Linked DNA regions of Homo sapiens: region 2 is linked to region 1. Evidence: fine-mapped expression QTL. A gene starts in region 1. The other region holds a variant in brackets. All regions are shown on one strand. Distances are between the middles of the regions.

Evidence for each region.
Region 2: its variant is fine-mapped to the expression of HINFP in coronary artery (GTEx, PIP 0.96).

The regions. Positions count from the first base shown.
Region 1 is chr11:119,116,893-119,131,983 of GRCh38, reverse strand. HINFP (histone H4 transcription factor) reads right to left here and starts at 10,404. Exons shown (of 10, transcript NM_198971.3): 1 at 10,345-10,404; 2 at 4,859-5,049; 3 at 1,030-1,259; 4 at 338-449; 5 at 2-154. The coding sequence starts at 5,039. C2CD2L (C2CD2 like) reads right to left here. Exons shown (of 14, transcript NM_001290474.2): 14 at 13,440-15,091. RefSeq lists a silencer at 10,391-10,670.
Region 2 is chr11:119,363,239-119,378,329 of GRCh38, reverse strand. It overlaps USP2 (ubiquitin specific peptidase 2), which reads left to right. Exons shown (of 13, transcript NM_004205.5): 2 at 4,809-5,623. The coding sequence starts at 4,850. Among named protein-coding and RNA genes, the nearest start is that of USP2, 11 kb to the left of the region's middle. RefSeq lists enhancers at 520-1,108, 1,425-2,003, 4,870-5,370, 8,959-9,889, 9,761-9,905, a cis regulatory region at 9,826-9,839 and a silencer at 13,965-14,154. The variant A/G (reference allele first, on the strand shown) is at 5,428.

The DNA.
Region 1 (15,091 bases):
CGATCCAATGAGGTCTGGCGACGGATGTGATCTAAGAACTTGGTATTGTTGGCAAACATGCCCCCACAGGTGGGGCAGGCTACCACTTTCTCCTGGGTATGGCTGCGGAGGTGCTCTCGAAGTTTACTGCGGTCCTTGAAGGTGCAGGTACAGCCTGGGAAGGAAGCCCTATCAGTCTCCTGCCACAAAACCCCAGTTTTGCCTAGGATCTGGTACCCCTGAGTCTCTCCAGCCGGCAGTCAACCTTGCCCCTGTAGGACCCCTATCCCTTTCTGTCCCAGCTCTTCAGGAACCCCAGCGTTTCCTCCAGAAGCCACAAGTTAAGAAGCAGCCCTACCTTTCCAGCCACACAGCACCACCGGGTTGTCCTTGCCGACTGCTTCGTATTCACAGCACAGACTGTGTGCTTCCACATGCCGATAAAACCACTCAGGATTGTCGAAGGAATTCTGTGCCAGGGGCAACTTGGGGTGAGGACTGAGGGTGGGTAGAGGGACTCACCCCTATGTGCCCGAAGAATTCTTGGCTCTCTCCCAAATTAACTTGATGGGGATGGGAAATTTTGAGGAAAGGCACTGCACAGAAATGGAGGAGTGGCCGGGTGCGGTTGCTAAACCCTGTAATCCCAGCACTTTGAGAGGCTGAGGCAGGAGAATCACTTGAGGCCAAGAGTTCGAGACCGGCCTGGGCAACACACCCAGACCTTGTCTCTACAAAAAATTTAGAAGTTAGCAGGGCATGGTGGTACATGCCTGTAGTCCTAGCTACTTGGGAGGCTGAGGTGGGAGGATTGCTTGAGCCCAGGAGTTCAAGGTTACAGTGAGCTATGATTGTACCACTGCACTCTAGCCTGGGCTTCAGATCAAGAGCCTGTGTGTAAAAAATAAACAAATTTTAAAAGAGCAAAAGAAATGGAAGAGAGATACTAGCAGGAATCTTGGAAATATAAGGCATCCCTGAAAGGGACAAGGCATCAGAGTTAAGACCCCCAGCTTCCTTCCACCCCAATTACTGGCACTGCCTGCTGACCTCACAGTGCTCCCACAGACACAGGAAGTGGTCAGGGATATCAGGGATGACGTTCCGGCTCTGGAAGTCCAGGATGCAGGGGCCAAGGTCAGCCTGGCTTTGCAAGGCCTGCAGCCCCCACTGTTTCAGCTTGGTGTGGTAGCAGTGGAAGTAGACATGGCGGATGAGGTCAGCAGAACTGTCCAGAGAACAAAAGCCACATTCCTGCCACAAGCAGGAGAATTCTTCCTCTGTAGAAAGGGGTTTAAAAGGAAGAGTCTGACACTTTCCAAGGCTCAGGTCACCTTCCACCTGCAGCACTAAACAGAGAGTGAGGAGGCTGGACTCGTGAGGAGGCTGGACTCTAACCAAATTACCAGGGTTCATTTAGCAAATACCAGTATTTAATGACCATAAATTGTGTGCCAGTTAGAGGGACTATAACAAGTAAAAAGTGTCCCACTCCTTGCCCTCACATAGCTTTCAGTCAGGGAGAAAGCATATTCATCAAATAATCAGATCTATAAATATAAAACTGCAACCAGTGATGAGTGTTACAAAGCGGGGATATACATGGTGCTATAAAAGCATTAAACAGAGGTCATTTGACATGGTGTTCTGAGAAACGTCCCCATGTTGAACTCTGAAGTACGATGGATGAGTATCTGTAAATAGGTGAAGAAGTGTGGTCTAGGCAGAGGTGAGAGTGTGTGCAAGGCCTATGCCAGAAACAGACAGCAGAAATGGCCGGCACGCAAGTCCTCTGACTTGAGTTTCTGCAGTTCCTGATGAAGATGCTGCCTCTCGATCTGACACCTCCCACTTCTCCTTGTAAAACCACCACTCCTCCTTCCCCTCATGTTTTGCTCAAGATCTGCCTTCTCCAAGAAGGCCCCATCAACTCTTCCAATCCATTTCCTATCTCTCTAGCATCCCTAAGCACTGTATTTTCAGCGCTTTATATAAGTTAACTTGTTTTGAAACACAGATACTTTAGAAAATATAATCATTCCCCAATTTTGCCTTTGTATAAATATGACTTGAATTTTGAAACTATCAATTATGGTTCATAGTCATCAGACTTAAAACAGAATTTGGGGTGGGAGAAGGAGAGCTGCCTCCATATTTCCTGTAGAATAGAGTTTTTCAGACTGTGTTGTGACCCACTAGTGGGTTAGGAAATCAGTTCAGTGAACTATCAACCACATTTTGGGCCGGGTGCGGTGGCTCACGCCTGTAATCCCAGCACTTTGGGAGGCCGAGGCAGACAGATCACGAGGTCAGGAGATCGAGACCATCCTGGCTAACACAGTCAAACCCCGTCTCTACTAAAAAATACAAAAAAAAATTAGCTGGGCTTGGTGGTGGGCGCCTGTAGTCCCAGCTATTTGGGAGGCTGAGGCAGGAGAGTGGCATGAACCCGGGAGGCGGACCTTGCAGTGAGCGGAGATCGAGCCACTGCACTCCCACAAAAAAAAAAAAAAAGAAAAGAAAAATGTATTCCTGCCAGATGCAGTGGCTTATGCTTATAGTCCCAGCTGCTCAGCATGCTGAGGCAGGAGGATCACTTGAGGCCAAGAGTTTAAGATCAACCTGGTAACATAGCAAGACTCTGTCTCTAAAAAAAAAGTGGCTTTGGTCGGGCGCAGTGGCTCACGCCTGTAATCCCAACACTTTGGGAGGCCGAGGCAGGCAGATCACAAGGTCAGGAGTTTGGGACCAGCCTGGCCAATATGGTGAAATCCTGTCTCTACTAAAAATACAAAAATTACCCGGGCGTGGTGGCGGGCACCTGTAATCTCAGCTACTTGGGAGGCTGAAGCAGGAGAATCACTTGAACCCGGGAGGCGGAGGTTGCAATTAGCCGAGATCATGCCATTGCACTCTAGCCTGAGCAACAGAGTAAGACTCCATCTTACTCTGAAAAAAAGTTTTTTTTTTCCTTTTTCTTTTAAATCCTGCCACACTTATTAGTACCGTGACTTTGGGCAAGTTATTTTATTCCTCTGTGCCTCCGTTTCCTTATTTGTAAAATGGGTATAATAATAGTGCCTATCCCATCCTGGCTAACACAGTGAAACCCCGTCTCTACTAAAAATACAAAAAAAAATTAGCTGGGCATAGTGGCATGTGCCTGTAATCCCAGCTACTCGGGAGGCTGAGGCAGTAGAATTGCTTGAACCTGGGAGGTGGAGGTTGCAGTGAGCTGAGATCGCACCACCACACTCCAGCCTGGCGACAGAGCAAGACTCCATCTAAAAATAATAATAATAAATAATAATAATAATAGTGCCTATCTCATAGGCTCTTTGGGAAATAGTGCTTTAATGTAGGTTTAAAAAAGTACTGGCCGGGCATGGTGGCTCACGTCTATAATCCCAGCACTTTGGGAGGCTGAGGCGGGCGGATCACCTGAGGTCAGGAGTTCAAGACCAGGCTGGCCAACAGGGGCATCCTGGCTAACATGGTGAAAGCCTGTCTCTACTAAAAATACAAAAAAAAATTAGACGGGCGTAGTGGCACGCACCTGTAATCCCAGCTACTCGGGAGGCTGAGGCAGAAGAATCGCTTGAACCGAGGAGGCAGAGGTTGCAGTGAGCCGAGATTGCACCACTGCACTACAGCCTGGGCAACAAGAATGAGACTCCATCTCAAAAAAAAAATAAAGTACCCAGCAATACTTAACACACAGTAGGTACTATAGAATACAGTTCACTATTGTTATTGTTTTCAGATTGGATTTTATTAAAATCCCAGTTATTTGCTATTGATAAAAGGCATACCTAAAACATAAGTCAGACAAAGGTTAAAAAGTGAGAGATGGGGCCAGGTGCGGTGGCTCACGCCTGTAATCCCAGCACTTTGGGAGGCCGAGGTGGGCGGATCATGAGATCAAGAGATTGAGACCATCCTGGCCAACATGGTGAAACCCCATCTCTACTAAAAGTACAAAAATTAGTTGGGCGTGGTGGCGCGCGCCTGTAGTCCCAGCTACAAGAGGCTGAGGCAGGAGAATTGCTTGAACCTGGGAGGCAAAGGCTGCAGTGAGCCGAGATCGAACCATTGCACTCCAACCTGGCAACAGAGCAAGACTCCGTCTCAAAAAAAAAAAAAAAAATTGGAAGGTGGGAGTGGGGTTGGACTTGGTGGCACAAGCCAATAGTCCCAGCTACTTAGGAGGCTAAGGTAGGAGGATTGCTCGAGGCCAGGAGTTTGAGATCAGTGGGCAACATAAGCAAGATCCTGTCTCTAAAAAAAATTTTTTTAAAAATTGGCGTGTGGTGGTGGTACATGCCTGCAGTCCTAACTACTCGGGAGGTTGAGGCAGGAGGATCCCTTGAGTGTTGAAGGCTGCAGTGAGCTATGATCATGACACTGGACTCCAACCTGGGTGACAAGATGAAGCCCTGTCTCTAAAAAGTAAGATGTATTTCTGACTGGTTGCAGTAAAAGAAAAAAAAAATTGGGAATACTAGAAGAGTAAAAAAAAAAAAAAAAAAAACACAACAACAAAACACAGGTTGCCAACAACTTGTACAGAATGATTAAAAAAAAGCACATTCATCTGTATTTAAATATATGTAAACACAGGCAGAGAGATGTCAAAAACAATGTTCACTAAAGTACTGTCAGCAATTACTTCTTGATGGCAGGATGGCAGATTTATTCCTTATATCCTTGTTGACTGAGTTTTCTATAAATGAGTTTACAATGTTTTTATATACAACAAAAACACAATTAGGAAAATAAACCACCATTCTCTTAGGCCGCCTTCTCCCTCTAAGGAAAAGAAAGTCAGATTTTCCACCTTTCCTTGAGCTCCTCCCCTTCCTGTGTCCTGCTCTCTTACCAAGTGGGTCATCCTCCTCTTCCTCTTCCTCCTCCTCCCCAGAGCCATGCAGGTGCTGCTGCAGGTGCTGAGTGACATGCTCAAAGAACTTTTCCATGGTTGAGCACACAAAGGAGCAGGACCCCCACTCACACTGTAGCCACAGATTCTCCTTTCGGGGAACTTTCCCAGGAGGCGGCATGGCCTTCACCCTAGAGGAAGAGGAAGAAATCCACAGCTGCAAGAATTCCACCCAGGTGCTGCTGAGGGCAAAAAGCTGGGCAGGCAGCCTGCCTAGAATCAGCACGTGTTGTTCCAGTGACCCATGAGAAACCCTGCCCTTTTACAGTAAGGATGGAGTAATTCCTTAAATCCCTGGAAGATGTCTGGTGTTTGTGGAAAGGGAAAACAAAAACTAACACTATTGAGTGTGTGCCAGGCACTGAGCTAAACGCTTTAACAGACATTTTCTCATGAAGCTTCAGAGCAACCCACCAAGAAGGAATTATTCCTCTGTGAGGCAGAACAATGCTCAGGTTCAAACAGATGGCTTTTGAGAAGGATCAGGGTTCAAATCCTGGCTCCACTGTCTACCATCTACTAGCTGTATGACCTTTGTCAAGAACTTAACTTCTGAATACTCTCATCTGCAAAATGAAGATAATAAATCTTTTTGTTTTTAATTTCACACTTACTATATGTCAAGCACCACAGTAAGCATTTTATTTGCATTATGTCATTTAATTACCAACACCACCCTTTGCCGTAGGTGCTTTTTTTTTTTTTTTTTTTGAGATTGAGTTTCGCTCATCTCCCAGGCTGGAGTGCAATGGCTCGATTTTGGCTCACTGCAACCTCCGCCTCCCGGGTTCAAGCGATTCTCCTGCCTCAGCCTCTTGAGTAGCTGGGATTACAGGCGCCCGCCACCACGCCTGGCTAATTTTTATATTTTTCGTAGAGACAGGGTTTCTTCCCCATGTTGGTCAGGCTGGTCTCAAACTCCTGCCCTCAGGTGATCCACCCACCTTGGCTTCCCAAAGTGCTGGGATCATAGGTGTGAGCCACCACGCCCAGCTGGTAGGTGCTATTTTTAACCTCATTTATAGATAAACACCTGAAGTTCCAGAGGTCAACTGACTTGCTCACGGCCACACACTAGTGGTAATGGTAGGGTCATGTTGGGCTGACTCTAGTCCATATACGGTTCTACTCCATAGAGCCTACAGATGAGCCTAGAAGCTCCTTATTTCTTATTGAATCATAAGTCCCCTGCCAGACTTTCACAGTGCCATACAATCTGCCTTTACCTAACCTATCCAACGGTTTACTCCACCACTCTGCTAATACCTTCTGTTAAAATGTAGATTCCATTTGAACATAAAAAGCCGTATCTGTGTAGTTTATACTGCACCTTGGGTGTCTATACACTGCTAGGCATGCTTAGGCATGTAATAAATATTTTTTTTCTTGAGACAGAGTCTCACCCTGTCACCCAGGCTGGAGTACAGTGGCACAATCACAGCTCACTGAAGCTTCGACCTCCCCAGGCTCAGGAGATCCTCCTACCTCAGCCTCCCAAGTAACTGGGACCACAGGCATGCGCCACCACATCTGTCTAATTTTTGTTTTGTTTTGTTTTTGTAGTGACAGGGTTTTGCCATGTTGCCCAGGCTGGTCTCGAATTCTTGGACTCAAGCAACCCATCTGCCTCAGACTCCCAAAGTGTTGGAGTTACAGGCATGAGCCACTGCACCCAGTCTGTAATAAATATTTATTGAAGAAAGATAAACATGAAACTGAAGGTTCTCGGCTGTGCGCACTGGTGCACACCTCTAATCCCAGCACTCTGGGAGGCCAAGACAGGTGGATCATCTGAAGTCAGGAGTTCAAGACCAGCCTGGCCAACATGGTGAAACCCTGTCTCTACTAAAAATACAAAAATTAGCCAGGCGTGGTGGCACAAGCCTGTAATCCCAGCTACTCGGGAGGCTGAGGCAGGAGAATCGCTTGAACTTGGAAGGCAGAAGCTGCAATGAGCCGAGATCGTGCCACTGTACTCCAGCCTGGGCAACAGAGTAAGACTCTGTCTCAAAAAAAAAAAAAAAAAAAAACACACACACACACACAAACAAAAAACTAAAGGTTCTCAATTTTATTTCATTTTATTTTTATTTTTTGAGACAGAGTCTCGCTGTTACCCAGGCTGGAATGCAGTGGCGCAATCTCAGCTCACTGCAACCTCCACCTGCCGGGTTCAAGAGATTCTCCTGCCTCAGCCTCCTGAGTAGCTGGGATTACAGGTGTGTCACCACGCCTGGCTAATTTTTGTATTTTTGCTAGAGACAGAGTTTCACCATGATGGCCAGGCTGGTCTCGAACTCCTGTCCTCAGGTGATCCACCCGCCTCAGCCTCCCAGAGTGCTGGGATTATAGATGTGAGCCACCATGCCCAGGTAGCTCTCAATTTTAGATCTGCACACGAATGTAGTTATCCAGCGCCTGCGTGAGAAGTTCGGATTCAGGAAGGCAGGAGTTAAGCCTAGAAATCTGCCCTTTTAACTCAGCACCCCAGTTGTGATGCAAGCAGTTCCAGAAGCATACTTTGAGTAACAATTAAAGAATAAACGAAACACAGAACAGAGGGTGACGTTGCAAGCAAAATTTCTGCTAGAGAGAGGACACTAGCCGGCCTTGGCTCTGTCTCCTGAGTGTCACCTTCTCCTCAGGAATTCTCACGGATTCTTGCTGACCCCACCATGTTGCTCTCTCTGGCCTACCTGAGACAGGTGGGAACTCTGAAAAAAGGCCTTTACTGAATACTAAAAGGAAAAAAAACAGAAAATACGAAAAAACAGAAGATCCTTCATGCCCCCAATACAGGCTTTTCTGAACCCACTATACCTACTGTACCTACATAGCCTTTTCTCCTCCTCAGAGAAGAATCCAGTCATCCTTAACACTCTGGGGTGCATATAGGGTTGCTGAGCTGCTCACAGACTACTAGTGAATCCCTATTACAAATATTGACTGCTGGGCCGAGTGCAGTGGCTCACGATCTTAGCACTTTGGGAGGCTGAGGTGAGCAAATGGCTTGAGCTCAGGAGTTTGTGACCAGCCTGGGCAACATGGCAAAATTCCGTCTCTACTAAAAATACAAAAATCAGCCGGGCGCAGTGGCTTATGCCTGTAATCCCAGCACTTTGGGAGGCCGAGGCGAGGGGATCACAAGGTCAGGAGATTGAGACCATCCTGGCCAAATACAAAAAATTAGCTAGGTATGGTGGCACACGCCTGTAGTCCCAGCTACTATGGAGGCTGAGGCAGGGGAATCACTTGAACCCGGGAGACAGAGGTTGCAGTGAGCCGAGATCGCACCATTGCACTCCAGCCTAGTGACAGAGCAAGATTCAATCTCAAAAAAAAAAAAAAAAAAAAAAAAACAGCCGATGTGGTAGCATGCACCTGCAGTCCCGCTACTTGGGAGGTTCAGGTGGGAGGAAGGCTTGAGCCCAGGAGGCAGAGGTTGCAAAGAGCCAAGATCACACCATTGTACTCCATCCTGGGCGGCAGACCCAGACCCTGTCAAAAAAAAAAAAAAGAAGAAAGAAATATTGAATATTGACTGCTTTTATAATGTTGTGGTAAGAAAAGTAGAAAAAAGCTTCAAAAGTCATAAAATCCCACACCTCCTCTGACTATTACAGTATGAAATGCAAGGCTCTTCTCAAAGTGGTCTCAATTTTACTTCTCCAGTTCTAGGTAGGGAAACGAACATCTATTGAGAAGCTACAGTGTGTCAGCCCTGTGGTGAGTCCTCTCTACACTTCATCTGATGTAAGAGCACCCTCATTCCAATCCAAAGATCATGCTCTTTCTCCCACATGATGCTGTTCTCTGGCTTCCTCACCCATACTTCATTCCCTCTTCCTCTGATTCAATCATCTTTGTCTCTGAATACTCTACATTCTCCTAAAACTCTCTGCCTACGCAAGTTCTTTTTTTTTTTTTTTTTTTTTTTGGAGATGGAGTCTTGCTCTGTCGCCCAGGCTGGAGTGCAGTGCTGTGATCTGGGCTCACTGCAACCTCCGCCTCCCAGGTTCAAGCGATTCTCGTGACTTAGCCTCCGAAGTATTATAGCTGGGACTATAAGCACGCACCACCACGCCCAGCTAATTTTTGTAGTATTAGTAGAGACGAGGTCTTGCCATGTTGGTCAGGCTGGTCCCAAACTCCTGACCTCAAGTGATCCGCCCGCCTCGGCCTCACAAAGTGCTGGGATTACAGGTGTGAGCCACCGCGACAGGCCTACCTATGCAACTTCTATTCGCCTTTCAAACCCCAAAGTCTTCTCTTTGATGACCCCCTTCCCAATTCATCCAGGTACAGCTGGCATATCCCATCTCTTGCCCACGGCATCCACACACATCTTTGCTATCAATGCAATGAAACTTGTTTCCCCTAGACTAGGAGTTTCTCAGGACAGTGGCCATCACTTATTCACTTCTCATTCTCAGATTCAGCACAGAGCTTTGCACACCCCAGGTACTCAATAAATATCAGGAGATAATCACATTCCGGGAAGCCTTCCTAAACTACCCCATCCCTGAATCTACTCTTGCTCCTTAGTTCTATGGCTGGCACAGCTGACACCATAAAACTTCAACCCTATTTTCATGTTGCCATGGTCGTTTTATGTGTTCTAGTCTCGTTTACCCAATTGGACTATAAGAAGCTTCTGAGCAGAAACCATATCACACCTGCCCGTGTCCCTACACTGTGCCGAGCACAAATATTCTAAACATACACCTGCTGTTAGACTGGTGGGTAAGTCCAAGGAGGCAAGCTAGCTGGCGATACAGAATGATCTGAAACCTAGGCAAAACTCCCTGACGCTCTCTGACTGTCCTCCTGTCTTCTTTAATTTCTCTTTCTGTGTCTCTTGTTTCTACTCTGAGGAGATAGGGGCATGATCTTCACTCTACCCTCTTAACACTTAAGAGGGCATATACTGTAACGCAAGACAATGAATGAACTGTGGTATTCAAGAAAAAAAGGGTCCTAAACGCCTAAGAACTCATAATTTGGCCAAAAAGATAAGACTGATACGTGAAGACAACGACCGAAACAAAGTACCCGATGAGGGAGACCAGGACAGAGAGACACCTCCGCGGTCAGGCGAAAAGGAAGTCTCCCCTAAGCAGTGGGGCCCGCACCACGCCTCGAAGGACAGGTAGAATTTGGACAGAAGGAAGGAGACCGTCCCGTTGGGCAAAACCTCTCCACTCGCAGTCCCGCAGGCTTCCCGGAATCCTTCACGCTAAGGCGTGGCGGCGACCGAGTCTCAGCCGCAGCGAAGCCCCTAGACTAGAAAGCAGGGAGGTTCCAGTCGGGGTGAGGGGACCGGACCAGGGCAGACCAGCGTGGCCAAGCGGCAAGAATACTCGCCGAGGTGGCTCGGGAAGAGCTTGGCCTCCTGCAGCCCCTGCAGAGCACATACCCCAGCTTACCGTCTGTCGGCTCCAGGTCTCTTCAGCTCTTCTCCCACCTCAGACCATCTCCGGAGAGGCGCTTGAGGGACGGTCAAGGAAAGCCAATCGTCGTTCTCGGATCCGACTGACAGCCAATGGTAGCTGTGTCTGGCGGAACCCGTGCGCACCAAAACACGGAAGGGGCGGGAACAGTGGGTGGGGCTAGGCGTCCCGGGCGGACAGAGGGGCGACAGGATACGTGCAAAAGGTAGCACGTGACCGCGCCTCGCTGCTCAGGGCAACGCAAAGGCGGGGAGCCTATGGGCCTGAGTTCCCCTAACTGCGCAGGCTCGGCCTCCGGGACCCAACGGGCATGCGCAGGGCTCGCGCCTGGTGCGCAGTGGGGTCTCCCTCACGTGGTTCTTCGCTTTAGTTGGCTGGTTGCGTGGGCCTCGCGGAGAAAAAGGCGTGGGATGCTGCCCAGCGCTGTCGGCCCCGCTCGGCTCAGATTGAAGGTTCTACCCTTTCCTTCAGCCTCTTAGTCTTATTATGTTTTAAATGTTGGTATTATATGTTTCTCTTTCCCCCCAAAACTCGGCTTCCCTTCATCCACTCGTTCAGGTCAGAAAGCTGGCAGTCATCACTGATTCCTCTCACTTCTCACATCCAATCCATTGCCAAGTTCTGTGGATTCTACCTCCTTTTAAAACAGGATATTTCAAATTTATCCCCTTTTGTTTATCTTCACCGCCTCCCCCACCTCCCCTGTCCAGTGATGACCTCCAGGCAGGATTTATACATTAGTCTAATGGGTCCCGCTGCGTGCACACTTGCTTCCTTCCAAAGCATTCTCCACTTTGCAAAAAGCAGACCTGATCAAGTTACCATCTGCTTCAGACAATTCAAAGGCATTCTATTGCTTTCAGGGCAAAGCTCCAAAACCATACTGAGGTTTTCTAGACCCTTCAGCATCTGGGCTCTCCCTGTCTACTTTTTTTTAGTCCTTCTCGACCATATTTCTTGCTCTCCAGTCGCAAATTTCTTTCACCTTTTCCACCACACCAAGCCACCTTTTACCTCTCAAGCCTTGAACTTGTTTTCTTTACCTGGAATAATCCCTTTCTCCTCCTCCCACATTTATTTGACTGACTCCTACTAATTTTTATGGTCTCAGTGTAGATGCTTCTTTTTCCAAAAAGTCTTCCTGATAGTCCTTTCTTGTATTTAACAATACAGCTCAGTCACATTGTATTTGTCTGTTTACTCTCAGTCTGCATTCTTCACTAGACTAGTTCTTCACCTTTATAACTCCATCAGTGGGCCGGGTGTCGTGGCTCACGCCTGTGATCCCAGCACTTTGGGAGGCCGAGGCGAGTGGATCACATGAGGTCAGGAGCTCAAGACCAGCCTGGCCAACATGGGGAAACCCCGTCTCTACTAAAAATACAAAAACTAGCTGGGCATCGTGGCGGGCGCCTATAATCTCAGCTACTCGGGAGGCTGAGGCAGGAGAATCGCTTGAACCCAGGAGGCACAGGTTGCAGTGAGCTGAGATGGCACCACTGCACACCAGCCTGGGCAACAGAGCAAGACTCTGTCTCAAAACAAAACAAAAAACAAAATAAAACAAAAAACCCATCACTCACTTAGCCCAGTGGCTGAAACTCAGTAAGGGTTCAAGACATACTTGTTAAATAATATACCTTAATAAAGTTGGTTAAGACTGATATTTTATTGCATTGTAGTTTTCTGTATCTTCTAATCTAAAAATAAACCTATATAATTTGTACAATCAGAAAACACATTAAATGTTCAATATATATAAAATAAAATTTAAAATGCCATTAAGATAGTAAAGTCATACTTGTGCATAAATTTTGGTTTTAACAACAGTGAGTTATAACTTGGTCCCTATTTTAAAATAGGGTTTTGCAGGGCGCGGTGGCTCATGCCTGTAATCCCAGCACTTTGGGAGGCCGAGGCGGGCGGATCATGAGGTCAGGAATTCGAAACCAGCCTGGCCAACATGGCGAAACCCCATCTCTACAAAAAATACAAAAATTAGCCAGGTGTGGTGGTGGGTGCCTGTAGTGCCAGCTACTCAGGAGGCTGAGGCAGGAAAATCGCTTGAACCTGAGAGGCAGAGGTTGCAGTGAGCCAAGATCACTCCACTGCACTCCAGCCCGGGCAACAGAGAGAGACTCTGTCTCAAAAAAAAAAAAAAAGCGTTTTAAAAAATGTAATTCAAAAGTAACAAAATATATCTTACCAACTTTATTCATTCAAAAATGCATATAGTAGTACTTCATGAAATGCCATCCTCATTTTAATTCAGATTTACACCACTGAAAATAGCTTTTAGCTTTATTTAGCAATTTTATGAAGAAAAAGTTCATTCACAGAGCTGTGTAAACTCAAACATAGGTTACAGAGCAAAAATTTCAGGATTGCTCTGGGATCCATATATATGTTTCCAAAATTTAAAGCAGTGTCATTCTGTCTAGCATAGTTTACTTCTATCTCAATCTGCTTCTCTTGAAAACAAGCCACAATTTTGGCTGGGTAATTCAGACATATCCTGAGATTTGTTCTTTAAAAGCTGCCACAAAAACTGAAAGCATAATTCATACTCATTAAAAGCTGTGGATCCCTTCTGAAAGTGTGAAATGGATTAAGTTGATGAAAATATGTTTCGTATTTTTTTCATTCATTTAAAAATTCCCTATTTTTGAAACGTGATCAGGCTCTTCTTCACTAAAATATGTGATTCCATGGAACTCTGGGCAGCTCAGTACTGGAAGCTCAATACAGATTCCAGTTACCATCTACTCATTCCCCAGGTCCTGTAGAACTCTGAATACCTGTTCTCCCATCAACAAAAGTTTCTTGTGCAATCACAAGTTCACTGTGTTTGGTTGTCGTGTCATACTGGTAGAAAAACTGTTCCTCTGTGAACCACTAAGAGTTACATTTCTTAGACTGGGGAAACAGCTTGAAAAATCTCTTTGAATTTTCATGACTTAGAATTGAACATTTCACTACATAAAAATCAACCAAATCGATGTGTCCATCAATGGAGGATTGGATAAAGAAAACGTAGTTAATGTAGTGAGTGATAAAGAAAATGCAGTTTATAAACTCCAACTTGACTTTAATAAATTAAATTCCAAGCTGTCACACAGCAATGGACATCATTATCATCGCCCAACACACACACACACAGTGGAATACTACTCAGCCATAAAAAAGAATGAAATCATGTGTTTTCCAGCAACATGGGTGGAACTGGAGGCCATTATCCTCGGTGAAATAACTCAGAAACAAAGTCAAATATGGCATATTCTCATTTATAAGTGGGAGCTAAATAATGGGTATACATGGACATATAGAGTGGAATAAAAGACATCGGAGACTATGAAAGGTGAGAAGGTGGGAGGAGGGTGAGGGTTGAAAAACTACCTATTGGGTATGATGTTCACTATTTGGGCGATGCGCACACTAAAAAAAGCCCAGACTTCACCTCTATGCATGCAATATATGCATGTAAGAAACCTGCACTTGTCCCCCCAAATATATAAAACTAAATTATCTAATTGAAAAAAAAAATCTATACCCTCCATTCTTCCCGGATATCTCATATTTGGTGAGTAGTGTGGACAGGAGCATGGGGAATAGTAACAATTTCCACATGCTATCTACCCAAAGGCATGTGCCCTAAACACCCTGAGATATAGGTAGTCATAGAATGTCAAGGCTGGAAGTGACCTGAATGTTTATCCAGGTCACCCTTATTTTAGATATGAGGAAACTGAGGTCCCCAAAGGAGAAGTTGCCTGCTCAAGATCACTTGGTTTGTCTGTGGCAGACTCAGTTTTCTTGCTTCCTGGTCCTGCATTCTGCCCAATATCCTGTAGCAGCTTACCTGGTTCAAGTCCTGTATAAGATCTCAAGCACGGGAACCAGGGACACAGTTTGCTAGGATCTATCAATCCCTGAAATTTGCCCACATTTCAGAATGAGAGAGCTTTTATTATGTTGAAACACTTCTAAGACTTCCCCCTCCCAGTTTCTTCTGAGGCAACAGTTAACACTCAGCACTTCATTTACTTCTCATCCACAACCAAATGATAGCCATGATGATTGAAGTTCCCATTTTACAGATGAGAAAACTGAGGCACTTAGAGGTTACATAACTTGCCCAAGGTCACACAAGTAATTAGAAGAGCTGGGACTCAAACCCAGGCAGGCAGTCTAGTTACAGGGTCCAAGCTTTGATCTCCATTACATCCTAGAAGGAGCAGCCTGTTCCAGAAAGGGGAATGAAGACTAACCTGTACTAGTTGATTGAGTTTTTTGCTACAATTTCATACTCCAGAGCCTCCTGTCTCTTCCATCCTTTCTCTGCACACCCCTTCTTCCCTGCAGGAACTTCTTAGCAGATCCACAATGTGTGTCATCTACCCAACCTCATTATCCGGGCCCCTGTCTCATCCTCCCACACCATCCATGTCACAGCCTGGCTGCCTACTGCCTTTCAAAGGATAACCAGTTGTCCAGTTTATAAACTCCAATTTGACTTTAATAAATTAAATTCCAAGCCATCACACAGCAATGGACATCATCATCGTCTCCCAACACACAGAGGTGCAGCCTTGCGTGGCTCCATCATCACAGTCTTTAAATAAAGCCCCTAAAGCCATCTCTCTGGGGAAGGCTTCCCACCAGGCTCCCGGCTCCCTCCTTCCCACAGAGCCACTGCTCACAGAGAAGGCATCAAGTACAAAAA
Region 2 (15,091 bases), 250 kb before region 1:
CCCCATCCCCTACTCTACCCATGTCCTCTACACCTGCCAGGATTCCCTCATCCCATCCTCCAGGACCAGACACTTGTGCCCAGATAGTGCAGCAGGTGACCCAAGCAGCTGGGAGGCAGGGTCAGAGTGCAGATGGAAGGATACAGGGCCCCCTCTCACCCACCTTGTCCTTCAAGGTCAGCACATTCTGATGCTGTTAGCAAGTGGCTTTAGGAAGCTCTGAGGTCACCACTGTGGGGGCTCCCAACCACCTGGCGGGACTGGCTGGGACTCCCCACTCACCTTTTCCGGGCACCTGAGTAGGAGGGAAGAGACTTAACCCTGTTTAGGCGTGCTTCTGAAACTCAGCTAGAGGCTCTCTATCCAGGCCCCAGTAGCAAAGCAGGCTTTCACCCCAGAAAGCCAAGCAGATCTGGGCAGAGAGAAGCCATGAAGGTTACTGGGATGTGGGGCATCACCCATCCCCTGCCCCCAGGGCCAGGAGCGCCTGGAATTCCTGGGGAGCAAGTCCCTCCCCTGGCTGGGCAGGTTAGGGAGCCCTTCATGTGAGCAACAGGAAATGACAGTGGCTGAAGCAAAGGGGTTGGCTGCCCCACGGGGACAGGGTTCATTTTAACCCCTGACTCACCCAGCATGGGTACCTTGAGGAGTGGGCCAAGCTGCAGCCAGGGTAGGAGGCTAGGGACTTGCTCATAACCAGGCCAGGGACCCAAGGCCCCGAGCTGGGGTAGATGCTGGTGCCAGGGGACATGCAGGGGCTTGGCACAGTGGGTGAAATGGAGGCTTCCTGGACCATCTCTCGGCCTATCAGTATTGTTCTGGGGCTCGAGTTGCACCTGGCTTCACTTTCATTCACCTGCAGTGGAAAATCCAGAGGGCTGCTCCTGCCAGAGTCTGTACACCGCATGCTGTTACTGGATGACGGACACCTGGATCCTGTGGTGGTCCTTCCCTCAAACCCCACCCACAGGTCCCAGTCCTGACCCGTCCCATGGAGAGCCAGGGAAGAGTGAAGCAGGGGTCTGGGCTTCAGGCCAGATATAGCAGACAGAGCACGAGTCCAGCCCAGCTCTGCCACTGCTCCCAGTGTGACTTTGGGAAATCCACATCACTCCCAGCATCGCCAACTTCCTCATCTGCAAATGGACGTGATAACAGCACCTACCGCTTAAAGGAGCAGGGAGGATTCAGTGAGTTAATGCACTGTGTCCCAAGCCTTAGTGCAGTTTTAAGCTTTAATAACTTCAGAAATATGAATGCTAAAAACTTCATTTGAAAGTTTCCATATTTAAATTTCTTGTATATTTATTTTTTAATTGTGAAAATGTTTTTAAATTTTAATTTAAATAATTTAATCTGTCCAAAGAGGTGTGTAAGTTGGAGACATTTATGTCTGAAAGAATCCCAGCTTAAACCTGCACTAAGACTTTTTGGGGTGCTCTGTGTATGAAGCACATCTAGAAGAATGCGTCACATGGCAAGGGCCGATGAGAGCTGATGTGAGACTGCAGAGAAGATGGACTCAGAAGCTGCATGTGAAGTACTCAACATGCCTGGGGCCTGGTTCAGAGGTGATCAGCACCAGCCAGCTGGGGTGACAGCTGCTTGGCTCAGATGCCCTGACAGGAAGCCCAGTGCCTCTGTGCAGAGGAACTCTGCTGCACCTCCCAGGAGAGGGAAACTGAGCAAAGCAACAGGAATCTCTGACAGAGAAGGAAGGGTCAGGACACCTCAGTGAAGATGGCCAGGAGGAGGAGCTGGGCAGGGGACTGCCCCCATTGTCCAAGGTGGCGGACACCTGGAGAGGCGCTGCCTGGAGCTGCATGCCTGTACTTGCCAGCTCTGGGTAAACAGTGAAAGGAGCTGGGCAGCAGGGGCCCCCCGCACTGGGCAGGGAGGGGTATGGGGGATCCCAGCCAATTGGCTTGCCTCCCACTGCCCCATGAAAGGGCCATTCAGTTCAGGCTGTTCCTGTGGCAACAGGGAGACTCGCAGCCACGTGAGTGCCCGTCCTGTCCCTGTCTTGCGCAGCGAGACTCCGGCCAGGGCCCCAGCCCGCTCTCCTGCCCATAGTGCATTCTGTGGCCTCCAGGGACAGCTGTGCAGGTAATGCCAAGGGGCACCAACCCAGGCTGTGCTTTCACCTGGAAGGTGCTAGGACCTTTGAGAGTGAAACTGGGGGTTGCGGGAGGGGAGAGACATGTGGAAGGCCCCGGCCCCAGTAGGAACCCTCTCCGCAGGCATGGGAACTGTAGCTAGAAGTCAGAGCCGAGAGGCAGCTTCCATGGAGTATTAGTGATGGCATGACTCCCAGGGCTGCTAGGAGGAGGCGGAGGGGTCTGGCAATCACCTGCCAGATGGGAGGGAGAGTGGGGATTTGGGAGCCCTCCTGGGAATCTGTGGGCCAGAGATGTGGCCCCACCTCCGGCTCCAAAGCCTTTCAGAGCTGTCTGTCCCTGTCCTCTGGACCTCGTTTGGCCCCAGCACTTCTGCGTCATCAGCAGGGTCAAGGGATGTCACGGGCTTGGGGCGCTGCCCGAAGAATACCAATTCCCTGAGAGCCTTACTGTGGGGGAGGGAGAGGGAGAGCTGTGGGGAGGAGCCATGAGCTCATACCCTTGTTGGGGGGATTGTATCTGATTGGCTGCCTGGTGTCCCAGAGCCCAGCTCCTGAGACCTGGAGTCTCTTTGACTTTGCATTATTGATGGAGTTCTCCAAAGCAAAATAGGGCAGGACTGGGCCCCCACCCCGACCCTGTGCCTCTGTCTGTCTCTCCCGCTATGGTTTCCCTCTAACGCTGTGTGACATCATCCCCCAGTTACCTTTTCCTAGAAAGGGGTGAAAGTTGTGCTGGGCACAGTGGGCAAAGGAGTGTACATGAAGGGCCAGGGGCCCCCTGGGCCAGGTGGCAAAAGGCTAGACAGTAAGATGGACCAGGCCTTTCTGATGTCAGCCTGGACTGAAAACTGCTGGAGTTCTCAGGCAGGGTCAAGGAATGCTGTTCCGGGCCTATATGGAAGCCACCTGCTCATCTCTCACCCCTGTACCTACCCCAAAGCCTTGTGTGGACTGGGATTCTAGAGCTTTCTGCCAAGCCCTCGCATTTGGGGTTTGGCACCAGCTCCTCTCTGCCCTAATGGGCTGGGTTGCCAAGCCAGTGTCTGCTGAGTGGCCAGATGTCTGCCCACTGCCTGTTTCTCTCGCTGGGGGCTGCAGGGGGAGGCCTGGCATCCCAAGCTGAGGCCAGAGGCTGGCCAGGCTGGGAGACAGCCAGCCCTGATATTATCACAGACCTTCAGAGGGCGGAGCCATGCTGCCTCGCAGTAGCTGGGGGAGGAGATGGTAGCCACTGTCATTGTGGAGCCCTTCACGTGTTGTTATCTCATTTATTCCTCACAACAGCCCTGTGAGGTAGGAATTATGAGGATGATGGTTTTACTCATTTACAGATGAGGAAGTTGGGGCTCAGAGAGGTTACGTGACTAGTGCAAAATCACCCAGCTAGTCCATCACAGGGCAAGTCCCACAACTCTGAGAGTCCTGGATGGCTCTGCTCCATCCCCCTAGAAAGCCCCCCAAGAGCCCCTGATGCCCTCGGGGAAAGGCGTCTGACCCTACTTGCTCCTCTGCCACTCCAGCTCCATTGGATACAGGCTGCACGTTTACGGTGATGGAAGGCCTCTGGGGGTCCCCAACTGACCCTAAATCTGATGCGGGGGAGGTAACTCCAGGTTAAGTAGAAAGAACACTGGCCAGGATTTTAAAGACCTGGATTCCAGTCCTGGCTCTGCTGGTGTGTGGCCGGGGGCAAATAAGCATCACTTTTCCCATCTGTATAACAGATAGATTAAAATTCATGATCCTCTGGGGCTCTCAAAGCTCCACATTCAGCAGTGTCTGTGTTCCTTCACTAGACCCTCCCCAGCTGCAGGACTGGAGCAGGGAAGGACTGGGAATGCCACCTGCAGTGCAAGATTTGGGACTGTAGGGGGCCCCCTTTGCACAAGCATCGCCAGGACCAATTTGAGATCTGTGTTTGTAGAGGAAGCCTGTGTTGGTAGAGGAACTCTTAGGAGGCCACAGGGCCCTAACTCCACTTAGAACAGAAGCTTAGCTCAGTGAAGTGAGTGTCCCTCACTGTGGGACCATGCAGCAGGTGCTGGTGTCTGGGGAAAGGGTCTGGAGACCACGTTCTGGCCCCTCATTGTTGCATGCTCACTCACGGCCTCCCCTGCCCACCCACACCCCATTACTTCCTCCCCTGAGCCTCCTTGGCCTCACAGGGGATCTGACCAAATGATCTTCAGGTCATTCCAGCACAGACAGTCTAGGATTCCAAAAAGACACCTGCTCATCACATAAGTCAGAAGGGACAGATGTGGTCTTAACTCCTGAAATATCCAGCATTCTCAACCCAGGGGTCAGTGGCATTCCCCCAGCTCAAGAGTTTCTGCAGATGCTGAGGCAATGGGATTTGACCTGGAAGACTGCACGGCTTGGTGGGCTGTGGAGGTCAGATAGCCCCTGCTTGCGTGTTTGAGTCTTTGAATGGCCAGGATGCGCTGACTTCCTGTGTGGCATATAAAAGCCACCTCATCCCTCGCACTCTCACCGAGGTGTGAACACACAGGTGCAAGCAAGCTCCTGTGCACACCTGCGTGCATGTGTGCTTCTCAGCAGCCAGCCTGCCTCTTGTGGAAATGGACTGGGAGCTCTGAGGTTCTGGCCCAGCTGAGGATGGGGAGCAGGTCTGTGGGAGCCCGACACCTGGCAGGGCCCTCTGACAACTACACTCCTTGTCTTTCAGCCCATGAGGCTCCCAGTCCCCACTGAGTGCCACCCTGAAGGATGTCCCAGCTCTCCTCCACCCTGAAGCGCTACACAGAATCGGCCCGCTACACAGATGCCCACTATGCCAAGTCGGGCTATGGTGCCTACACCCCGTCCTCCTATGGGGCCAATCTGGCTGCCTCCTTACTGGAGAAGGAGAAACTTGGTTTCAAGCCGGTCCCCACCAGCAGCTTCCTCACCCGTCCCCGTACCTATGGCCCCTCCTCCCTCCTGGACTATGACCGGGGCCGCCCCCTGCTGAGACCCGACATCACTGGGGGTGGTAAGCGGGCAGAGAGCCAGACCCGGGGTACTGAGCGGCCTTTAGGCAGTGGCCTCAGCGGGGGCAGCGGATTCCCTTATGGAGTGACCAACAACTGCCTCAGCTACCTGCCCATCAATGCCTATGACCAGGGGGTGACCCTAACCCAGAAGCTGGACAGCCAATCAGACCTGGCCCGGGATTTCTCCAGCCTCCGGACCTCAGATAGCTACCGGATAGACCCCAGGAACCTGGGCCGCAGCCCCATGCTGGCCCGGACGCGCAAGGAGCTCTGCACCCTGCAGGGGCTCTACCAGACAGCCAGCTGCCCTGA[A/G]TACCTGGTCGACTACCTGGAGAACTATGGTCGCAAGGGCAGTGCATCTCAGGTGCCCTCCCAGGCCCCTCCCTCACGAGTCCCTGAAATCATCAGCCCAACCTACCGACCCATTGGCCGCTACACGCTGTGGGAGACGGGAAAGGGTCAGGCCCCTGGGCCCAGCCGCTCCAGCTCCCCGGGAAGAGACGGCATGGTGAGTTTACCCTTGGGGACCGGGGATAGGCTGGGGAGGCAGCCACTGATGGAGAACAGCCAGGCTGAGGGCTCGACTCCCAACCTGACTGATGACTGACAGGCTGCTCCTGGTGGAGACAAACAAGAGAAGTCATCCTGGCACATCTGGTGCCCCTGGGGCTCCGTGCCGAGGGGAGGGGCCTTCCCACTCTGCCTAGAAAGCCCACTCAGGGCCCGCGCACTCGAGGATAGTCCAGTAGTGTTCTCAGGAATGCTCTGCTGCGCCCAATGAACCACTCTTCTCACCTTCTCCTTTTCTATGTGACATGCCAGTGTCTCCTGCAGGCCTTGCCCCAACCTGGGCTGGATGCGGGGGGGCCCAGACCACCAGTGCACCCTGTGGCAGGAGGGCCTCCTTGCTGTGGTTGCATCTCCCCTCTTGTGCAGGCTTTATTCCCTAGCCCCAAGGCCTGGCTTTACATTTGGACATAAGACATCAGGGGAAGAGGGACTCTCCTCTGAGTGACACTGGCATACTCAGGACCAGGGTATCAGACAGCAATGCTTATCATCTGGCTTTGGAGAAAGTAGGGGAGAAATTTTTATCTAGGGCTTGAGACAATCCAATACCTCTATTCCAGCCCTGCCTCAGCTGGAATGAGGGAAGAGGCTCTGCTGGAGACTGACCAAGGGCTGGCATGGGCTCGCTCGCCAACTAATGCCCGCACACGCCTCTCTTGGGGCACTGACGACATCTGCCTTTTCTGTAGTTATTAGTGTGCCCATTAGGTGGCAAGCTCTCAGAGGAGGAAAAAGAAATCCTATCTCTAGATCCCCTGCCACGTGCCTCCCACAATGGGGGCTGACCTGCTGATTGCAGGGATGAATGGATGGATGGATGTGTGGGTGGTGGGTGGGTGGATACACGGGTAGATGGCGGGTGGACAGATGGACAGGCAAGCATATGGGCAGAAGGGCTGGATGCTGTGTCTCCTCCATTACCTTATGTACCCCTCCCTACTCCTAGGACAAATACATTTTGAAAACAACAGCATGCCACAGCAAGAAATACTGCTTGGAGGGCTGATCCAGACAAATGCAGCAGGGGTTCAGGAATAGGGGCAGGACCTTGAAGCTTGCATAACTAAAGGTCTTGAGAGAGCAACTTTGATAATATGACTTAGGGAGTCTTGGCTTTGTTGTGCCATCTGTGAAGTGGCACAGGAGATAGAAACGCTGGTGCCTCCCAGAACATTCAGAACTTGACAAGGCAGGGCTGGATCCACTGTAGAAAGGAGTGGAGAAGAGAGATGTGTCACAACAGAGCTGGCATGGTGGGGAAGTATCAGCTCTCAGGGTGCTGCGTGCTGGGCTTGGAGTGGAGCAGGACTCACTTGGACTCGGCTGGTGCTGTTCAACCCCAGGGCAATTAGAATATGGCTCTCCTCGGAGGGGCTCGGGTCCTAGAAGCCTCTGCGGGGCTCCCTCCCCTTGCTCAGAAGAGAAGGGTTGTTTCATGGTCAGCAGTGCTCCTTAAAGTGGGGTCTGCAGACTGCCTGTGTCAGAGTCACTGCAGGGCTTAACGATTCATCCAAACCCACTGAAGCAAACTCTCTCGGGATGGGGCCTGGGAAGCTGCTCTTTCCACAAGCTCTTTGGGTGATCTCTAGGCATGCTGAGATGGAAAACCTCAGCGCAGACTAAACTACAGACCCACCCTCAGCCCCAATCATGACAGCAGTATTCCCCTTTACTGGGGATCAGATTCCACTGGGAATCTGCCTCCTCCCCACACAGGCATGGCCCAACCCTCCTGGGAGTCTGCCGCCCTCCAACTCTCCAGAAGGGACAACCCTGGCTCCTCCCCCCGGCTCCAGGGCCAAGGTGAAGGGAATTTTGAGAGAGGACCTCAAAGAAGTGGCAGATTGCCCTGGGACAAACTCAGCCACCCTCATCCAGAAGCAACTCATAAGGCACTTTAGCCGGGAATGCCCTGCAGTTGAGCTAGTGTTTCATTCTGAGCTCATGCCCCAGAAGATACTGCCAACCAGCAGAGGCCTCTCCAGGGTCAATAGTACAAGACCTTTATTTAACCTCACCCTGATCTCTCCACCCCTTATCGTCATTTCCTGGAGCAGAGTGCGTCTTGCTGAGGTGAGAACAACCCTGCTCGTGCGGCCTGGACCACTTCTTTCTAAAACTGGGTCCAGTTTCTTTCTAGATCTCCATCTGGGGATCTTGCCTTCTGAGGCACTCATTTGTGGTGCTCAGCTTACTAGCAGCGTGACCTCAGATAGGTCCCTTAGCTTCTGAACTTGTGTCCTCCTCTGTAAGATGAGTGATCATAGTTCCCACTTCACAGATTACTTGAGGAATGAAAAGATAATGTATGTGAAAGTGCCTGGCATGTTGCTTAGTAAATGTTAGTCCTCGTTGTTGTACCCTTCTGGTGCTTTGGCAGGCAAGAGATGTGTGCGAGCAACAGTCCCTGCCTTCAGTGCCTTCACAATTCACTTAGGGAAATAAGTTTGTTTTGTTTTGTTTTTTTGGAGATGGAGTCTCGCTCTGTCTCACTCAGGTTGGAGTGCAGTGGTGCGATCTCGGCTCACTACAACCTCCACCTCCCAGGTTCAAGTGATTCTCCTGTGTCAGCCTCCCAAGTAGCTAGGACTACAGGCGTGTACCACCACACCAGGCTAATTTTGTATTTTTAGTAGAGACGGGGTTTCACCATGTTGGCCAGGCTGGTCTTGAACTGACCTCAGGTGATCCACCCGCCTCGGCCTCCCAAAGCGCTGAGATTACAGGTGTGAGCCACCACGCCTGGCCAAGAAGAAGTTCTTAAATAGGTACAATGGGAGGCAGCCCTGGGTGTTCTTGAGTGTCACAGGTGGACGGAAAGGGAGAGGTCATCTGAGGCTGGGACGGGCTGCTCGTGACCAGTGGAAGGAACAGTTGGCCTCTCTAACCTTGGACACCTATCAGCTGGGCTGTATTTCCTAGACTATAAAAGGGAACAATCACGCCCGCCCTGCCCACCTCTCAAGCATGCCATGAGGCTCAAAGCAAATAATGAAGGTGGAGGAATGTGAAATCAATAAAATGCTGCAGAAGAGGTCATTTAAACTTAAGGGGGGAAAAGAGATCATAGAAAGGGGGCGTTTGGCAGCTGACTAGAGTAGGAAGCCCCCTCCCCACCAACCCCGTGGGAGAAACAGAGGTAAAAAAAAGTACATCCTGTGTCCCAGGGGATTCTCAGGATAGCTGACTGGAGCTACAGCTGGCATTCATTAAGGGAGGTCAACAGCAGGCTGTGACCAGGGAGAACAGTTCTAGCCAGACTTCTTTCCCTCATTAACAGTAATAGGCAACACGAACTTTGAATATCACAGACTCAGCTGAGCATGAGCACAGAGCTGGCGGGGGGCAGGGGCGGGTGGCAGGGGGCGCCACATAAATTCAGAATTATCCCCTCCCCATGCTTGTGTAAGCACCAACAAAATGCCAGGCCAGGGGGGCGCAGCTCAGCACTTGTATAATGAGGGCCTCCCCTGAGACTTCACCTTCTGCTTAAAATGCAGAGAGGAGGAACAGTGATGGTGGAAAAAAAGTGTTCACTAACCCAAGTGGGGACTCCAAGCCAGCTCAGGTGGCTCAGCCCTGCAGAGACCCAGGAGCCCCAGTCCCAACCCTGTCATCTCCCTACTCTGCCCCACTTCTCCTGTTCCCGGGGTCTATGGAAGGACGAGCTGTTCCCATTGAGCCCTGCCAGGGCTGCGCTTTAACCCCTACAATCCTTCCTAATCCCCCTCAGCTCCACCCCTCCAGCTGCTCCTCCCTAGCCCTGGCATTCTGCCCGCTGGCCTCTGCCCAGCCCTTGCCCCACCCTGCCCAGGCCACCCTCTCCTCTCCCCAAGAAGATCCAGGGGTTGGCCCAGGGCCCTCCAGAGCACAGTCAGCAAGCTGGGCACCTGCAACTCGGAGGCAGAGCCAGGGCTGAGGCTCAGAGTCTGGCCCAGCCTATTCTCACCCACCCAGTCTCTTCCACACCCTTGCCCTCCGCTCTAGGACCTGTTTCTAGGAGCAAAAGGTCTGGGAAACTGAATACCTGGGTCCTATTTGCCACTGGGGCTGCTGACTCATCTTCCGAAGCCTTGGGTTCCAGCTGTTCAGTGACAGGGAGATTATATAAGCTGAGGTCATGTGATTTTTCCCTGGGGTGGGACTTTGGACTTGAATGCTGCCCTGCAGTGAGCGGAGGTTACTCCAAAGAGAACAAATTGCGGATAGCAGGGGCTGTCCTGGAGCTCCTAGGTGAGAAGTACAACTCGCCTCTCGTCCCTCATGTTCTCGCTCCGTTCACGCAGCCACACTGGCCTGTATCCCTGCTGCCTTGTTTGTCTAGCTTGGCAGCCTGAGATCCTGGGGTCTGTCCTTACCTACTCCCACCCCGGGATCACTAAGCCACCCTAAGGAGGTTGAACTTCCTGAGGTCATGAATCTGTGTTGGCAGCATGAGAAGGTCACTAAAGGACCTTAAGCCAGAGGGGCCCCTTGGCCAGGAGCTGTACTAGCTGCTGCGAAGGAAAGGGCAGTGGGTTTGCGGTTTGTGACTAGAATCAGCAAGACACTGATGTCTCCATCCCTTGCAGACCGGCTGTGGGCTGTATCCTGGCCGTTAGCCTTGGTACTGCCTTATCCAGGCTCAATTTCTCAATCGGTGCCCAGCACCATCCTCCCGCCTCCTCCTCCACCCCCACTCCAGGATGTCTTCATGAGTTAATGTGGTGCTGGGGTGGGGCTCAGCAATGCAGAAGTTAATCCAAGCCTGGCAAAATGTTCCTTGCCCCTGGGGGAGCCGCTCCACTGACCACCAGCTGCAGAAATGAACATCATGTTCAGAGCCCAAAGCTGCACACGTGGCCCCTTGTACTCTCTCACCTCAATACGTACATAAAACTAGCGCCCCAGACGGAGACACATGCAAAAGAAGGAGGTGTGTGGGCCTCTGGAATCCAGCTGGTTCAGGCCAGACTGCCTGGGCTCAAAGGTGCACAGAGCTTTTGGCCTCTTGGGGTCCACGTCATGCAGGGAAGCAGACCTTCCTACAGAGAGTGGGGAGGATGGGCTGACCCTCTCTCCCCAAGGTGCACTGTGGGGCAAAAGCCCAACCCCTAACAAGGACTCAGAGCCCCTACCTTTTCATCCATCAATCAATCAGGCCACCGGTCTGTCCATTTGCGGTGGTAATCGCAGGCACATGCTGGGAGCCAGGCTTTAAGACATCTGCCTTAGCCCCAGCAGTGTCACCAAACCCTGGCCTAAGCTGCCCACGCAGATCTGAGAGAAGCAGAATACTCTCAGTCCCCGCCCTCATAGAGCTAGCCCTAACTTTCATTTATATCACTCCATCTCATGCCAGGAAGGATTTAAGGTGACAAAAATTACTTATCCTATAGGGAAGCAGGCCAAGCCCAGGTTCTGAGGAACGGCAGTCAGGATGCAGGAATGAGCCCAGCTCAGTTTAGCTTTGTGTATTTGAAGCACAGAGAGTCACTGAGCCAGAGCCAGATTCAGATGCCAGAAGCCTCTATCCTTTGTATCCATCCCACTCCGAGAATGGCAGTGAAGAGAAAGGGTCTCACAGAGACCTGGCTGGCCGAGAGATGAGCCAAGGTCCTTTGTGGCCGTGTCCTGCAGCAGTCGGACCTGCTTGACTAGACTGGACTCTGTGTGAATTCTTTCCCCCAACCCCAGACTTCTCAAAGTGCTCCCACGCTAAAGCTTTCTGCATCTGGCCCTCCCTGCTCCTGGCAACCCCTCTAACCTCCTAAATCCCAGGGAAGAGGGAGAGCAAGCTGGCAGAACACCCAGATGTCCTGGGTGGGAGTGCTTACATCACTGTGTCTAAGTCATGGGGAAACAGGCCAAATGCTATAGTGGGTGAGCACCTCTTGGGCAGGTCCCCCCAAGCCCAGCAGCACATGTGTTCAACATGCAAAAGCAGACTCACACCCCACCCTCTGAGGCTTAGTGTGACTCCCAGGATTCCTAGCAGAGCCTGGTCTGGCCCTCTTTAGAGACAAGATCAACACCATTTATTAAGAACCCACCAAGAGAACCCACAACCCTGCCCTTGAGGAGGTTTCAGTGTGCTGGCAAAACCAAGACAAGCCACACACAAGACCATTTATAGGACTCTTTGAAACACTTATAAAGCAAAGATAAACATATTAAGATAGATTAACACCATGCAAACTGAATGCGCATAGACTGACGATATGCAGTAATGGAGAGTTTAGAGATGGGTGGAGTTAATTAGGGAAGGCTTTTGGAAGATGCAAATTTTAGGCAGAATTTACAAGTAGGTAATTGGCAGAGAGCAGGAAGTACATCCCAGAATTTCCTGTTAAAAGCATGGGTTTTGCTGTAAGACAAAGCCCCACATTGTCATTTATTAACTTTGCAGTCCTGGAAAGTCATTTGACCTCTCTAGGCTTAAGGTCCTTCACCTATAAAACAGAGGTAATAGGCCGGGCGTGGTGGCTCACGCCTGTAATCCCAGCACTTTGGGAGGCTGAGGTGGGCGGATCACTTGAGGTCAGGAGTTCATGACCAGCTCGGCCAACATGGTGAAACCCCGTCTCTACTAAAAATACAAAAATTAGCCAGGCGTGGTGGTGCGCACCTGTAATCCCAGCTACTCAGGAAGCTGAGGCAGGAGAATTGTTTGAACCCGGGAGGCAGAGGTTGCAGTGAGCCGAGATCGTGCCACTGCACTCCAGCCTGGGCGACAGAGCAAGCCTCCGTCTCAAAAAAAAAAAAAACAAAACAAATAAAATAGAGGTAATAGTTACTACAGCATGATGTTATAGAAATTAACTGGGATAATATATATAAAACCCTTAACCCAGTGCCTGGGATCTAATAAGTACTTAATGAGTGGCAGTTTTGGTTTTTCAGCAGAGGATAAGCACAGGCTGGTTGACAGCAGTGGTCAAAGACTGAGGGTGGTGGGCCTGTGGACAAACAGCCTTAGAGAAAGGCTACCTGAGGCTTCGGGGCTGGATGCAAGGGCAGGTGCTCTAGTTGTTTCAGGACAGAAGAGTGATGAGATCAGATGCAAACATTGCTTCAGATGGTGTAGGGCTGGCTTGAAAGCGTTTGGCTGGAAAGGAGGCTTGGAGAAAGGCTGCTGCAGTTTGTCCGGGGTCCAGATTCAGTCAGAGTCTGGGTGAGGACAGTGACTGTAGAGATCACCACTCCTCACATGCCCACTCTCACTGATCACAAGCAGACTGCCTGTGGTTCCTGTCCCCTGCCCCCTCCTCCCACCACACTGCTGGCACACAGGGGAGGGGGCAACTGTCCCCATCCCTCTCTCATTAGCATGAAATTGCTGCTTTGTCGGTGGCCTGGGGTACTGCCATACGTGTGTCCTGGACACAGTCCCCATGTAGCTGTGGTCATGTGTGCGTGTACATGTGGGGATGAGCACACCAGAAGGAACAGAAGGAGCCCACAGATGAGTAACAGCATACACTGCTGCCTCTTGGAGTATTTTTAAATGCTAAAAATACTGGCTAAAAATAGCCAGCAAGCTCCAAACAAGATACTTTCTCTAGGCAGATTCGTGAGCTTCCCTGTTAGGTGGAGGGGTGGGGCATCAGAAACGAAATCTAAAGACCCCTGATCTTCCAGCATGGCTGTGCTTGACGCCAGAGTAGAACACTCGCCCCATGCCAGCTGAGCGCCTATTTCCCCACTATTGTATTGCTTTCTCCCCAGCTCCCCAAAACAAGTCAAATTTGAGAATGGGAGAGCCGGAGCTGGGTAATTGGTTAGAAGAGACCAGAAAAGGTTCTTTTCAGGAGCCAAATGAGAAGGTGACCTATTGGACCTTATAAAACATGAGCACTGCCTCTCTTGAAAGAAGCCAAACAGGACTGTTTTGAGGAGGGCAGCTCAGCCCCTAGGCCGTGAAGGTCCATCTTCTTAACCTGGGCACATTGACCTCCACAGACTGCATGAGTTTGGGTCTTCACGAAGGCCTGAGTACCCCCGGAACTCTAGACAAAAGTTTGTGCATATACGTATTTCGCCCTGAAGAGAGAAGAGCTTTCATCACGTTCTCAAAATGGTTTGCAGCCCCCTCAAGAGTTAGGAAGTGTAATGGTGCCTTGGGGGAAGCTCACCCGGTTGCCACTGGGTCTTGGGGAGACGTCCTCTGCGGGCCCCAAAGATCACTTATCCCGAGCTGAGCCTCAACCCCGAGGCCGGCCAGGGCCTCAGGGCTCCGGTCCTGCCTCCCCCGCGGGCCTGCCTGGCCGGGGGTCAGCGGGCTGGGGGCGCCGGGGAGCGCGGGGAAGGCCCGGCGGGGGAGGACCGACCTTGTCGCCTCGTTCGGGTCCGCGTGCCGGCGCCGGGGGCGGGGTAGAGGCGAGGTGGGGCGGGGCTTAGGGCCTGGCCCCGCCCCAGCGCTGACGTCGCGGGGCCCGAGGCGCCGGCGGGGCCGCCAGTCGGCCGGAGCGCGAGAGCCGGGACCCGGGCTGTTGGCGGCGCACGCCGGGGAGGTTGAGGCGGAGGAGCGCGCGTTCGGGCGCCGCGGACGCTGTCCTGTAGCGGTCTCGCCGGCCTCGGCGTCCGGACTGTGGCACCGCGCGGGGACTCCCCCCGCGCCCCCGCTGCCAACGTTAAGCGAGGGCCAAAGCCCGCCGCCCGCCCCCCAGCATGCGCACCTCGTACACCGTGACCCTGCCCGAGGACCCCCCCGCCGCCCCCTTTCCCGCCCTCGCCAAGGAGCTGCGGCCGCGCTCCCCTCTCTCCCCGTCCCTGCTGCTCTCCACCTTCGTGGGGCTCCTGCTCAACAAAGCCAAGGTACGCGGGCCCTTTTCCGGGACCCCCGCGCCGAGGGCCTGGGGTCCCGCCTTCTCCCTGGCCTCTGCCCGCCACGCGCCCCTAGGTGAGGGGACGGATTCTTCCCAGCCCCCACCCCTCCTTTCCCAGGGTCTCCTGGCAAGGAATGCCCCCTCCTCAGGTGATCGCACGCTTACTCGTGGTCCCCTCCCCGGGTGGAGGTCCGAGGAAGTCCCCCTTGCCCCCTCCCTCTCGGTGGCCCCGGCACCAGGTGGTGGCTCTTGGCCTCTCAATTCCTGGCACCTATCAGGACAGGTGCAGGAAAGCATAACCTTGACTGGGTCTCGATCGGTGTGCGAGGGCAGCACGCTGGACCGTGCCGGGGTACTCCTCCGAGGCCAAACCCCGGCGAGGAAGGCTGGGCAGAAAGGGGCCGCCTCCCCTTCACTGTCCACCAAGGGCTCTTTCCCAAGGGTTGGTGACGGGGGTCCTTTGACCCTGTGAAGGGCAGACGAGGTGCAGACAGGTGACAGAGGGCAACTTCCCCTTCTTTCCGTCCTCTCCATTTATGCAGCGGGCAGCGGGTCCCTCCGCGGAAGCAGCCCCCAGGGGAATGCCGGGGCCGAGGCTG